Homo sapiens: one gene and its partner. The protein of the gene in region 1 purifies or fractionates together with the protein of each later gene. This does not show direct contact. Each region holds a gene or a part of one and is shown on either strand. Other genes may lie near its edges.

What was found. Proteins that work in one complex are often made in the same cells at the same time.
Region 2: the proteins of C4BPB (region 1) and DCTN4 purify together in Homo sapiens (affinity purification with mass spectrometry; 3 studies listed by BioGRID and IntAct, with this or other methods). This does not show direct contact.

Annotation. Positions count from the first base shown.
Region 1 is NC_000001.11:207,091,860-207,095,359, forward strand, and holds part of C4BPB (C4b-binding protein beta chain isoform 1 precursor), read left to right. Parts: intron 1-3,431; coding exon of another isoform or gene 3,432-3,500. UniProt on the Homo sapiens protein: Controls the classical pathway of complement activation. It binds as a cofactor to C3b/C4b inactivator (C3bINA), which then hydrolyzes the complement fragment C4b.
Region 2 is NC_000005.10:150,714,018-150,717,517, forward strand, and holds part of DCTN4 (dynactin subunit 4), read right to left. Parts: intron 1,646-3,500; coding exon 1,548-1,645; intron 1-1,547. UniProt on the Homo sapiens protein: Part of the dynactin complex that activates the molecular motor dynein for ultra-processive transport along microtubules.

The DNA of each region.
Region 1 (3,500 bases):
GATTAGTAGTCTAAACTTAGACATTTGCCACATCCCTGGGATGCTTTTCTCTTTTTTTGTATCAGAGACAGGCTTAAGATCTAGCAGACAGCCATGAAACAAGTGGAGCTCACAGAACCAAATCTCACCTCAAGAGAATACATTCCATTGCAATGAACAGCATCCAAAGCACACATTTTTCCTTCTCAGATAGGGGTCCTGTCCTACTAGGTGTAATGTAGGGTAGTTTGGAGCATCGACTATTTTATTTCTTAATTTCAAGACAGTGACTTTGTTTGAAAAGTAAACACAAAACGGGAAAAAGATCATAACTCATCTATTGCAAAATTATCTACAAGAGGCTAAAGACCCTCTTTCTATCACTACAATTCATATCTCTCAGAGTTAGTAAATTGGGTGTGTTTATTTCATGACTTTTTCTTATGTTTATACAGACATTTAAAACAAACACACACAAATAAAATATTTAAATTAAATAAGCATTAAATGCCATTTTGTGTGTATGTATATATATAAATATACCTATAGAAAAGGGACTTGCTATACATATTTTTAAATTGCTTTTTTTCATGTAACTATATACATGGCCACTTTCCTACACCAGTCCATGTAGCTCTATTGCCCGCTATTTAATAACTGCATATGTGTATGTCATAATTTATTATATGGCTCCCATATTATTTTAATATTTTTTATATTTGGAACAATGCTGAAATGAATATTTTATACACACACATATTCTTATGTCTACGTTGTTATTTCTTTCTTTCTTTTTTTTTTTTTTTTGAGATGGAGTCTTACTCTATTGCCCAGGCTGGAGTGCAGTGGTGTGATCTCGGCTCACTGCAACCTCTGCTGCCCAGGTTCTAGCGATTCTGCTGCCTCAGCCTCCCGAGTAGCTGGGTTACAGGTGCCTGCCACCACGCCCAGCTAATTTTTGTATTTTTAGTAGAGACGGGGTTTCACCATCTTGGCCAGACTGGTCTTGAACTCCTGATCTCGTGATCCACCCACCTCGGCCTCCTAAAGTGCTGGGATTACAGGCGTGAGCCACCGCACCAGGCTACTACATTGCTATTTCTATAGGATAGATTCCTAAAATGATTGCTGGATCACAGGATGCTATTATTTGCAGAATATACTTCAAATATCCAAGAAAGTCTACTAAAATATTTAATATATACTTGGACACAAAATAAATATTGAAAAAAATCAATGTTTTCATTTTCTATTAATAATTGTTAGTTGAATTTGAAATGTAAAAATAATTCGATTCACAAGATCTATATGAAAATTTACTGAAAGATATAAAATAAGACTTGAATGAAAGAAAAGACATGCATGATCCTGGATGGGCAGACTTACTATTACAGTGCAATGCCTCCCAGGATTTTAAATTCAAAAATATGAAAAAAACATTAATTAAAGAATCTCATCCAGTAGGATACACATCTAACATTGTAAATATTTTTGGGAAAATGATGAATGATGTATACATTTGACTGGATCAAAGGGAAAGGAATACTTGCCGTATTAGATAGTAAAAAATACTACAAAGTTACTATGAGCACAATATGGCAAACTGTAGGTACTACAAATTATATATCATTAAAATAGCAAAGTATAGGTACATATAAGTAGAACAGATTAAGTCAGGAGGAAAAGTCTATTCAATAGTGATGGAATAATTATCTATTTGGAAGAAGACAAAGTTAGGGCTCTAGCTCACACCATATTCATAATACATTCCAAATGGATTTTAAATATATAACTATAGAAAGCAAAATTATTAAATCATTAAAAGAAAACATGAGATAATATATTTATTACATTGGGATGGGGAAAGCCTTCCTAAGCAGTTTCATAAAACTCAGGAAGTCATAAAGGAAGAAAATGGGCAGATTTAATTAAATTTTTAAAAGAAAAACTTCTACATACTAAAAGACATCATATTGAATAAAGTATTTGCAACATATTTGATGGTTAAAGAGTTAATGTTTTTAATAAACAAAGATCCCCTAGAGATCAGTAAGGAAAAAAACAACCCAATAGAAAATAAGCAGTTGGGTAAGGACAGGCAATTCCAAAATAATGGCCCTAAACAGCACTTCTATCTCCTGATTATATGAAAGGATATTGAACATTACAAATGATTATAGAACTGGAAATTAAAATTAGATATACATCTTTTACTGATCAGATTAGCAAAAAATGAAAAGATGGATTTAATTTAATACTATTCATGACCTGAGGAAATAGCCATTTACGTCAGTGAGAGTGTAAAGTGCTATCACTATTTGGATGTATTTTGGCAGTAGCTACTAAAATAATAAAAGCCAGGCGTGGCAGTGCATACCTGCAGTCCCAGCTACTTGGGAAGCTAAGGCAGGAGGATAGCTTGAGTCCAGAAATTTGAGGCCAGCCTAGACAACACAGTGAGGCCTGTCTCTAAAAAAAAAAAAATGAAAAAGAAATAATAAAGACAGGCAGTTTAAGAGCACAAACTATATATGCTCTTACATGAGGGAATTTGGGGTTATTTAAAACTTGCATACATACTATTATATATACAGTTAAATTACATGCATATAATAGCATTTTATGTCATTAGCTTGACACAAGTTTAAAGTATTTCCTTATTTCTTCCAAACATTTTCTGGTTTACTCTCTTTTAATTCAGTAGTTTCTATCCTAGCTCTTAACCACAGGATCCCTGTCTTTTTATGTCACTTCATTATCTAAATCTAGGATGAGCTCCCTAGGTTTCTGAATAAACCAGATTCTTTCTGTTTATTCTGTTTACCACATCATCTCCTTCCGTTCAAAATTGTACTCATAAAAGTTACCAGAACTCTGGTGGACTGGAATCCCCCAAACAACTCCTGGAAATTCTTCTTGCTTTCCTCTATTCAGCCTTTGAGCTCAGTCTCTGAGCTTTAAAAAATTACAGTGTATTAACTGCATAAGTAATATTAATACACCTTTGTTGTAGAAAAATATAGAAAATAAAAGACGAAACCAATTACATACAAGCCATCTAAGGATAAGGGCATTAAGTATTTTGGCATATAACTTTCCATACTTTTTTCCTGTGCTTATGTATGTGTAACCATGATTTACAAAAATAATATTATACATGCTCTTTCATCATCTGCTGTTTTTACTCAACCATTTGTTTAGAAGATTTTTATGTTTCAGTAAATATACACCCACATAATCATTGTTAGCCACTATTTTTGATCGACATGTTTAGTGTCCTGTGGTCTCAGAGCTGACTGGGACCTTAGAGATGATATTATTTAACCTGCTTATCTGATAATATTAGGAAGGAAGCCAAGAGGAGCAAAATGGCTTTAGTGCTACATAGCTAGTGGAAGAGCCAGTATCAAGACTCACAACTCCTAACACGTCATCCTGCTTTCTTTCCACAGTTCCACAGACTCGTCCTCTTCCCTTCCAGCCATGTTCTCCCCTATTTCTTTTTCTTTTGAGACAGAGTC
Region 2 (3,500 bases), on another chromosome or scaffold:
GAGGCAGGAGAACTGCTTGAACTCGGGAGGTGGAGGTTGCAGTGAGCAGGAGATCACGCCATTGCACTCCAGCCTGGGCGACAGAGACTCCTTCTCTAAAAACAAAACAAAGACTGTGAATGTTCCCTGTGCCAGTTTACTAAGCTATTATTTTTCAGCTCCAAGCGCACCTCTCTCAATTTTGCTTTGTGACACAGGATTCTGCTTGGACTGTATCTGCTGGATCGGATGGCTCTTTGTCAGGTTCTGTCAGCAGCGGGCTCTAAAGGGAGACTAGAAGTCTGGAGGAGGAAGGGTCTTGCTCTTCCTTTAGAGATTCCTGTTTGCTTGTGGTCCCTGTTCCCTGTGGCCATCACTCCAAAAATGTCTTTTTTTTTTTGAGACAGGGTATCACTCTGTTGCCCAGGCTGGAGTACAGTCACAATCACAGCTGACTGCAGCCTCAGCCTACCGGGCTCAACTGATTCTCCCACCCTGGTATCCTGAGTAGCTGGGACTACAAGCATGCGCTGCTACACCTGGCTATTTTTAAAATTTTTTTGTAGAGACGGAGTCTTAACTCTATTCCTAGGCTGGTTTCAAACTCCTGTGAAGCAATCCTCCTGCCTCAGCCTCCCAAAGTGTTGAGAATACAGGGGTAAGCCACCATGCCCGGCCCAGCAATGCTTCTTTACCCAGGAGGAAGTGGCAGTAAGCAGTTGAAGTTTTCCAATTCTTGTATAATCATGCCACCCCTCCTTTGCCATCACGAGATGCCAGGACCACGCAAGCAGTGTTCCCCTTCAGCTCACTGGAGGCCTGAGTTTCAGCTACATGGAGCTCTTTGTTTAAGTTCTAAATTTTAATAATTCTAACTATTTCCCTTTGTTCCCTCCACCTAAGGGGTGGTAGCTGGCTCATCAAATAGCTATCTTTGAAATTTTATGCCCATGAAGTAGCATAAAATTGCTACTTCAGTGTTCTTTTTCACTTTTTAAGTTACACAAGTGAACAATTATTTATATTAAATCCTCTGTTCGAATCATTGAAAACATTCAGTCTACAGACTGAATTCTCTGATGGTCACAGTCCCCAGTTACTGGAAGGTTTGGTTCTTTTCAGTTATTAGATATGAGAGAGTAAAATCTATTAATTCCTCCAAGGGGGTGGGGGTGGGGAACAAACCCGATGATCAATCTCTAGGGACAGAGTATTGTATCCTGTCCACAACCATTAAAATCATATAATTAAAAATTTCTTTATTAACATGGGAAAATATATTCAAGTGAAAAAGGCTAAAAAACTGTATTTATAGAATGATCCCAATGAGGTGAGAAATATTTGGAAGGACAAATGCCAAAATGCTAATGGTGTTTATCTCTGGTGGTGGGATAATTTTATTTTCTTCTTCATGGTCTTACATATATTTCCCCAATTTTCTACAATAATTATTTTTAGAAACAGGAAGAAAAAAGTTATTTTAAAAAATCCAGACAAGAAAACTGGATATAAGTGGGCATTCTATTATCAGCCATTTGTTGTATGGGGATCACAAAAAGATCACTCACTCAGGATCGTCCTGAAAGTCTTGAGGTTCTGCCAACTCATCGTACTCTGCTGCTGCATCCTTGCCAGCTAAAACGAGCTCTTTGGGAGGCACCACCACCTGGAGAGCAACACAGAGAGGCCTGCCTGAGAAGGGACCAGTGTGACAGAATATAGCAAAGTACGACATTGATTTAGACAAATGGAAGCACACAGCAAGTTTCAGGAAACATATACTACTTCTATGGAGTTTATAAGAACAAAGGTTTTAAGAGAAAGCTAAGTTAGTACTTACTTCATGGGGTCTGCAATGAGGAACTGGGGAGAACATGGGGGCTTCAATTGTGTCTTTAATGTTTTATTTTATTATTTATTTTTTTGAGATGGAGTCTCACTCTGTCGCCCAGGCTAGAGTGCAAATGGCATGATCTCGGCTCACTGCAACCTCTGCCTCCTGGGTTCAAGCGATTCTCCTGACTCAGCCTCATGAGTAGCTAGGACTACAGGTGCCCACCACCATGCCTGGCTAATTTTTTGCAGTTTTAGTAGAGACGGGGTTTCACCATATTGGCCAAGCTGGTTTCGAACTCCTGCCCTCATGATCCACTTGCCTCGGCCTCCCAAACTGTTGGGATTACAGGCGTGAGCCACCGCGCCTAGCCCTAATGTTTAATTTCTTAAGGGGATGGGGAGAAATGGGTACTTGCCATATTATTCCTCATTTTTTTTTGATACATCTGAAACAGTCCATCATTAAGAACAACACAAAGGAGAAACACTGGTTCCAACACAATGTTTTTTGACATGGTACCAGCTGATTCCTGGTACCTGATACATAAACTTACATGAGATACTGGGTGATTATGGTCATGGAAAACAATTAGCATTCTTCAGACTTATGTTGTAATTAGGCCTCAACTTTGCTCTATCAGAGGTTAACAGTTAACAGTGTTGATCAAATTTCTAATTATAGATACAAATGTGGGAGGGGAGGTATAAAGAGAGCTTTATAAAGATATGCTGTGCTTATGCATCAGGTACTTATTTCTGTCTGTCTTAACTGGAGCTGCTTATTAGTGTTAATAAAAAAAGGAACGTCAGGGCACAGTGGCTCAGATCTGTAATCTCAGCACTTTGGGAGCCCGAGGAAGGTGGATCACAAGGTCAAGCGATTGAGACCATCCTGGCCAACAGGGTGAAACCCCGTCTCTACTAAAACTGCAAAAAATTAGCCGGGCGTGGTGGCAGGCGCCTGTAATCCCAGCTACTTGGGAGGCTGAGGTAGGGGAATCGCTTGAAACTGGGAGGCGGAGAGTGCAGTGAGCCGAGACTGCGCCACTGCACTCCAGCCTGGCGACCGAGTGAGATTCCGTCTCAAAAAAAAAAAAGCAACAAGGACCAAATAAGTGAAATAAGTGTTATCTCTCTTTGGAGGTGATGCTAGTAAGTGAAATCATTAAAAAGCAGAAGAAAAAAAAAAAGAGGACAGAAATTCTCTAATATTATTTGAATAAGAACTAAAGATATAGGCATCTTTTTAAACCATTTCTATTATAAATATCATGCTGAATTATGAATTAGTAATAGATGATCTATAGAGAAAGGCTCTTGTTCTAAAATTTCAAGTACTAGAAGTAGCAAAATATAAAGAGAGGCCATATTACATCCATTCAACTCACACTGAGTCAAAATCACCTACTTTAACATTTAGTTATTTTGTTTTTTGAGATGGAGTCTCACCTCAGCCGCCCAGGCTGGAGTGCAGTGGCGCGATCTCAGCTCACTGCAATCACTGTCTCCCGGGTTCAAGTGATTCTCCCATCTCAGCCTCCCCAGTAGCTGAGATTACAGGCATCTGCCATCATGCCCGGCTAATTTTTGTATTTTAGTAGAGACGGGTTTCACCATGTTGGCCAGGCTGGTCTTGAACTCCTGACCTTAGATGATCCACTCACCTTGGCCTCCCAAAGTGCTAG